2 linked regions of the Homo sapiens genome follow. The protein of the gene in region 1 interacts with the protein of each later gene in a pairwise test. Each region holds a gene or a part of one and is shown on either strand. Other genes may lie near its edges.

Region 1 (4,024 bases):
GTGAGAGAAGCTCGGCACAGCCTGAAGGGCAGCACCCATCTGCAGACAACGCGGGCCGCACTGCCTGACTGCCCCTGGACACTGCATAAGCCCCTCCTCCCAGGGGCGCCCTCTGACACCTGCCTCCCTCTTCCTCTGTGATCAGAGAATGCAGGTTCCGGCCATCTGGGGAAGTGGGGCCCGGCACACCCCACCGTTATTCCTTGCCTCTGAATGTGCCTATACCCAGGACCCGGGAGCCCGACCGATGAGGCAGCAGGCCTGGCAGAAGTAGGACTTATGTGACACCCAGAGCCACGGAAACCTCCAGCAGGAAGAGACTCTGAGACTCTCATTTACAGGGCAGCAGAGGGCAGAGAAGCCCCCTACCAGTAACACACATATGGCCCTGCAACAGCCCAGGGCTGCTCACCCATGTTGTACTTCTGCTGCACTTCCCGGACCACTTGGGTGTTGGCCGACCTCCGGAAGATGCCCTCGGTGGTGAGAGCTGGGAAACAGTAGGGCCTGGTGAGCCTCCGAGCGCTGGGCACCGGCTGGATTCCCTGCCCCTTCTCTGTCTTGGGGTTCTAGGCAGGGCTGGGTGGGGACGTTGAGGCTTGCAGGACCTCCCTCTGCCCTGCCCAGCAGCTTCCCCAGCTTCCTGAAGGGAGCCGGGAGACCTGGCTGGTGAGGAGGCAGGCCCGGCACTCACCGTGGGCCTGTAAGTAGGCAACAGTCTCCCTGAGTACAATGGGAATGGGCTCCTGCTCTGGATTCTTCTCCTGGAGGCTGCGGGAAAAAGGCTGGTGAGCCGGGCCTGCAGCCCTTCCCGCCCCGCCGTGGCCCAGCCACCTTTCATACTTACTGCTGCAGCGAGACTCCAAACTGCTGGTTGGGCAGGGGGGGCCGTGGGGGCATGGGCTTGGGGGCTGTCGCGGGGCTCTTCTGTGTGGATTTCAGGAAGTCGTCATATCTGTAGGAGTAGAGGGAGGTGGGTCAGGTCCTGCCTGGCTCTGGAGTCACTCTGCCAATTCAATCAAGCATTGACCACGCGGGGTCAGGAGGATCATCTCATGCGATCTCTGTAACAACTCCGCTTTCCACAGCAGAAAGCAAAGACCTGGGAGAGGTCGGGACACGGGCTTGCTCTGCCTAAGCCCCACGCGGTCTCTGAATCAGGACACACGTCCTCATTACCCTGGCTTCACGAGCCCCCAGCCGCCGCACCCGCCTCACTTGAGCACTTGGCGAGGGATCCCCAGCTGCTCCAGCTTCACGTGCTCGCTCAGCTCGCTCAGGTAATTCACATAGAAGATCTTCTGCCCGAACTTGAAGCTGTTGGTGGAAGAAAGGGCCTGGGTTGTGGGGGCCCGCTTCCGGTGGCCTCCACTCTCCCCTCAACACCCACCCAGTTCAGACGGAAGCCCAGCCGCACCTGGTGGTCCCCAGGCTGCCCAGCCTCCCAGCTTCAGAGTTCCAGGCAAGCCGGGACCACCAGCCCTGCCCGTGGCCACTCACCTGATGAGGGGCTTGAAGAGGATGAGCAGAGTTTTGATGAACATGGTTGGATGCACGATGTACAAGGCCTTGATGTTTTTCTTGTACCTGCAGAGACAGAATGGACAACTCAGGAGCAGGCGTGGTGGGACAGGTGCCACGCTAGGGTCCCAGTGCATACTTTTTTTTTTTGAGACAGAGTCTCCTTCACCCAGGCTGGAGTGTGATCTCAGCTCATTGCAGCCTCCACCTCCCGGATTCAAGCTATTCTCCTGCCTCAGCCTCCTGAGTAACTAGGATTACAGGCACCCACCACCACACCTAGCTAATTTTTGTATTTTTAGCGGAGACAGGGTTTCACCATGTTGGCCAGGCTGGTCTGGAACTCCTGACCTCAAGTGATCCATCCGCCTCAGCTTCCCAAAGTGCTGGGATTACAGGTGTGAGCCACCACACCCTGCCTCAGTGCATATTTTCTGATTTGAACATGCATGGCCAGCATGCGAGGTAAGGGCCATCACTGTCTCATTTTACAGATTAGAAAACAGGAGGCTCAAAGAGGTTAAGTAAAACAAGAGGTCAGAGTGCAAATAAGCTGAGAAACTGGGCCTTACTTAAGCCCAGGGTGATCTGACTGCAGATTCTTTACATTGACGTAGACGGCAGCCCCCGCCACCCCCTGCCTTGGAATAAGCTCCTGCCCAAGTGGAGGGCAGCCCGGAAGCTGGCAGAGCCGCTGCCTCTGGATCTGACTGTGCAGGCCCCATGCCCCAACCCACTTGCGGTCAAACTCCCGGTAGGCATCACGGAGCCAGCTGAGGGAGGGCTTGTTGTCGCTGGTCAGGCCGTGGTGCAGATACAGAAGTGTGTAGTCACTCTCCACGTACTGGTCCAGGGTGTGCTTCAGGTACCTTCCAGGGAAAAGCCCTGCTCAGGCCTGCCCTGTGCACAGGGGCGGCCCCACGAAGACAGAAAGCAGCCCCAAGAGTCTCCCACCACGTCACAGCCCCTTCCCCACAGGCCCTCCCCTAGCACAGTCTGTTCTGGCTCATAATCAGTCACCAGGTTGCTGTGGAGGAGGCCTAGGGTAGAGGCTGGGCAGAGGAATGAGAATAGTAATAACAGCTCTCAGCCGGGCGCAGTGGCTCATGCCTGTAATCCCAACACTTTGGGAGGCCAAGGCGGGTGGATCACCTGAGGTCAGGAGTTCAAGACCAGCCTGGCCAACATGGTGAAACCCCATCTCTACTAAAAATGCAAAAATTAGCCGAGCATGGTGGTGCAGGCCTGTAATCCCAGCTACTCAGGAGGCTGAGGCAGGAGAATCGCTTGAACCCAGGAGGCGGAGGTTTCAGTGAGCAGAGATTGTGGCACTGTACTCCAGCCTGGGCAACAAGAGTGAAACTCTGTCTCAATAATAGTAATAATAATAACAGTTCTCACTCTTGAGCAGGAACTAGATGTCAGGAGACCAGGACCCTAACCCGGGCCTGCCTAGGCCTGCAGTGAAAAGGGGAATGACGTTTCCCCTGAATCAGGGATTTCTCTGAATCAATAATAATGATGACAGTCACCATTTCTCAATATTAAGTTTTTAGTGTCTGCCAAGCACTTCACATACATTAGCTCATACATTGCTTATAACTGAGGCTGATGTAATCCCCATCCTACAAATGAAGGCAATGACCAGAGAGGTCAAGTGCTGATCCAAGGTCACACAGCTTGTGGTAGATCCTGGAAGTGAAGTGTCTAACACCAAAGCCTGCTTTTTTTTTTTTTTTTTTTTTGAGACAGGGTCTTACTGTCACCCAGGCTGGGGCACCGTAGCGCAATCACAGCTCACCGCAGCCTTGACCTCCCAGGCTTAAGCTATCCTCCTGCCTCAGCCTCCTGAGTAGTAGGAACCGCAGGTGTGAGCCACCACACCCGGCTCTTTTTTCTACTTTTTATTTTGTAGAGACAGGTCTCACTATGTTGCCCAGGCTGGTCTTGAGTTCCTGGCCTCAAGCAATCCTCCCACCTCAGCCTCCCAAAGTGCTGGGAGATTACAGGCATGAGTCACTGCACCTGGCCGAAAGCCTGCATTCTTGACCATGGGACAGCTTTGCCTTCTACACATGAACTCCAGTGCCGGCGGTAAAACACTGTGCCCATGAGAGGGGATGGGGTGGCCAGAGAGTCACCTGCTCCAGTCACTGGGCCTTTAGTGGACCAAAGAGCCCCAATTCCTCTGGTTCCCTATTATGCTCATGACACGCTATCTACCAGCTCAGCACAAACATATACACACCTGGTGTTGAGCACACTGAGAGTTATGGATGGAATGAACAAGAACTGGGGAAAGGGAAGGGAGTGTGTGTAAAGCCCTCTCCTTTTTTTTTTTTTTGAGATGGAGTTTTGCTCTTGTTGCCCAGGCTGGAGTGCAGTGGCATGATCTCGGCTCACCAAAACCTCTGCCTCCCAGATTCAAGTGATTCTCCTGACTCAGCCTCCCAAGTAGCTGGGATTATAGGCATGTGCCACCACGCCCAGCTAATTTTGTATT
Region 2 (3,500 bases), on another chromosome or scaffold:
CTGTCACACAATTGTTCAATTATTCTTTTTAAATCATTTTTATTTCTGTCAGATCAGTAGTAATTATCTCTCTCATTCTAATTTTAGTAATTTGAGTCTTGTCTCTTTTTTTCTTGTTCAGTCTGTCTAAGGTTTGCCAACTTGTTGATCTTTTTAACTAACTAAATTTGGATTTGTTAATTTTCTTTTTCTTTCTAGAGATAGGGTCTCACTCTCACTCTGGAGTGAGTGGTGCAACCACAGCTTAGTGCAGCCTCGACCTTCAGGCTCAAGTGATCCTCCTTCCTTGGCCTCCCAAAGTACTGGGATTACAGGTGTGAGCCATCGTGCCCAGCCCATATGTAATTTTGATAGATCTTGCTAAATTGTCCTCCCTAGACAATTATAGACAATGTGTGTATAAATTATATTCCCAATGGCAATGTATGAGAGTACCCGCTTTTTCATACCTCTTGCCAGCACAGGGTGATATGAAACTTTTGGATTTTTGCCAATCTAATAGGTAAAACATGAAATCTTAATGTGTTTTTGATTTCTGAATTTTCTTATATTGGGTTAGCTTGGCCACCTTTCATATGTTTGAGCCAGCTGTATTTCTGTTTCTTGTAAATTATCTTTTCATATCCTTTACCTATTTTTCTACTGGACTGTTTAGCGTTTTCACTGATTTATAGGAACCTAACATTTATTAGGGAAATTATTCCTTTTCCTGATAGGAGTTGCTAGTATTTTCCCTAGTCTGCCTTGCAATGAACATTTAATTACCTGCCATGTGCAATATCCCAAGTGCTGGAGTTGTACTGTTAAACAAGAGGTCTCCAGCTGCCCTCCTGGAGGTTATGTTCTAATGCAGGGAGGTGGGGAGAAAATATACAAATAAGCAAGGTAATTTCCAGCCGTGGCCCATACCCAAAAAGATATAAAACAGGATAACATTATGATAACAGGTGAGTAATGTTTATATAACAAGCTGAGCGGGAGGCCGGGTGTGGTGGCGCATGCCTGTTATCCCAGCACTTTGGGAGGCCGAGGCGGGCGGATCACAAGTTCAGGAGATCGAGACCATCCTGTCTAACATGGCGAAACCCCGTCTCTACTAAAATTACAAAAAATTAGCTGGGCATGGTGGCACGTGCCTGTAGTCCCAGCCACTCGGGAGGCTGAGGCAGGAGAATCGCTTGAACCTGGGAGGTGGAGGTTGCAGTGAGCCGAGATCGCGCCACCGCACTCCAGCCTGGGCGACAGAGCGAGACTCCATCTCAAAGAAAGAAAGCTGAGTGGGAGATGATAGTAGAGTCCTAAAGGCAGATAGTGTTGTGTAGATAGTATCTGTTATACAAAAGGCAAGGTGGAATGAGCCATTTGTGTAGTTGGGGAAGAAGTGCTAAGACCACAAGGCAGATTGAACCCAGCATTCTTGGGGGCAGTGAAAGGAGGCCAGTGGTGCTGGGTGTCATGAGCAAGGGGAGAGGGGTATGAGGTGGGGCTGGAATGGTGGCAGACGCCAGACCCTGAGCATCTAGTAGGCCATGAGGAAGAGTGCAGATTTTATGCTAAGTGTCATGGAAAACCTCAGGAAGGTAATAAGCAGGAAATTACTGTATTGCAAGTAATTTTCCAAGTCATTAAAAATTACTCGAGAACTTTTAATGACTATTTGTTATTTCACGGTTTTATATATATATGTATGTGTATGTGTGTGTTTGTGTATATAAATACATATATTAATAGATTATAATATATATTATATATTATTATATATTTAGATATAATTACTATATTATAAATATATAATATATGTTATATTGTGTATAAATATATAATTATATTTAAGACAACTTATAAAATAAATTTATATAACATGTATAATAAATACAAATTATATATATTATATATAATAAATATAAAATAAATATATAATATATATTAAATATTTGTTTATTTATTTTTTTGAGACAGGGTCTTGCTCTGTTGCCCAGGTTGGAGTACAGTGGCAGGATCACAGCCCATTGTAGCATCAGCTTATCTTGCTCAAGTGATCCTCCTCCTTCAGCCTCCTGAGTAGCTGGACTACAGGCATGCACCACCACATCTGGTTAATTGTTTTTTGTTTTTTTTCAGACAGAGTCTTGCTTTGTCGTCCAGGCTGGAGTGCAGTGGCGCAATCTTGGCTCACTGCATCCTCCACCTCCCAGGTTCAAGCAATTCTCTGCCTCAGCTTCCCGAGTAACTGGGATTACAGGCACCCGCCACCACGCCCAGCTAATTTTTGTATTTTTTAGTAGAGACAGGGTTTCACCATCTTGGCCAGGCTGGTCTTGAACTCCTGACCTCGTGATCCATTCGTCTCAGCCTCCCAAAGTGCTGGGATTACAGGCATGAGCCACCACACCTGGCCATTTTTTTTTTTTTGAAACTGGGTCTCACTCTGTCGCCCAGGCTAGTGTGCAGTGGCGCAGTCTCAGCTCACTGCAGCCTCGACCTCCTGGGCTCAAGCGATCCTCCCACCTCAGCCTCCTGAGTAGCTGAGACCACAGGGACCCACCACCACACCCTGCTGATTTTTTATTTTTTGTAGAGATAGGGTTTCACCATGTTGCCCAGACTAATTTTTAAATTCTTGGTAGAGATGGGTGCCCCCTATGTTGCCCAGGCTGGTCATGAGCTCCTGGGGTCAAGTGATCCTCCTGCCTTAGCCTTCCAAAGGGCTGAGATTACAGGTGTGAGCCACTGTGCCTGGCCATGTGGTTATAGATAAACTGCCATTTGTTAAACTCATTGGTAATGTTGTTTTTTCTCTCCTAATTTTTAATCTTGTAAAATCTTGATAAGCAGATTGATAATTCTGATTGCCTTCTTAGGCTATTTTCCTACAATTAGCATTTATGAGCAATTTTTAAACGTTTGATACATGAAATTCAACAGCCCTCTGATGCATGCTTTTATATTACAGAATGTGTGAATGACAACTACTGGTTTGGGAGGGACAAAAGCTGTGAATATTGCTTTGATGAACCACTGCTGAAAAGAACAGATAAATACCGAACATACAGCAAGAAACACTTTCGGATTTTCAGGGTAGGTAATGAATACCCATGTATCTAGGAGAGCTGGTAATTTGGTCATTGTTTTTAGATATTTTCCCACTATAAATCTCTGCTATTCAAAGTCTGAAACAAAATGTTCTCTATTTTAGGAAGTGGGTCCTAAAAACTCTTACATTGCATACATAGAAGATCACAGTGGCAATGGAACCTTTGTAAATACAGAGCTTGTAGGGAAAGGAAAACGCCGTCCTTTGAATAACAATTCTGAAATTGCACTGTCACTAAGCAGAAATAAAGGTAATATTATTATCTTATGGTTACTGGAATTTTTTTTTTCCACTCTCTCATAGGAGGAAAATTTGTCCTGTCCTTACAGAATATGGTTTAAGTGAGTAAAGATGAGTAAGTTGCTGGGCGTGGTGGCTCACACCTGTAATCCCAGCACTTTGGGAG

Evidence for each region.
Region 2: the proteins of ARHGAP1 (region 1) and CHEK2 interact in a two-hybrid assay, tested with the Homo sapiens proteins (one large-scale study listed by BioGRID and IntAct).

The regions. Positions count from the first base shown.
Region 1 is NC_000011.10:46,679,793-46,683,816, forward strand, and holds part of ARHGAP1 (rho GTPase-activating protein 1), read right to left. Parts: intron 2,391-4,024; coding exon 2,259-2,390; intron 1,588-2,258; coding exon 1,501-1,587; intron 1,318-1,500; coding exon 1,219-1,317; intron 956-1,218; coding exon 848-955; intron 772-847; coding exon 695-771; intron 491-694; coding exon 413-490; intron 1-412. UniProt on the Homo sapiens protein: GTPase activator for the Rho, Rac and Cdc42 proteins, converting them to the putatively inactive GDP-bound state. Cdc42 seems to be the preferred substrate.
Region 2 is NC_000022.11:28,724,821-28,728,320, reverse strand, and holds part of CHEK2 (serine/threonine-protein kinase Chk2), read left to right. Parts: intron 1-2,953; coding exon 2,954-3,078; intron 3,079-3,196; coding exon 3,197-3,344; intron 3,345-3,397; coding exon of another isoform or gene 3,398-3,435; intron 3,436-3,500. UniProt on the Homo sapiens protein: Serine/threonine-protein kinase which is required for checkpoint-mediated cell cycle arrest, activation of DNA repair and apoptosis in response to the presence of DNA double-strand breaks.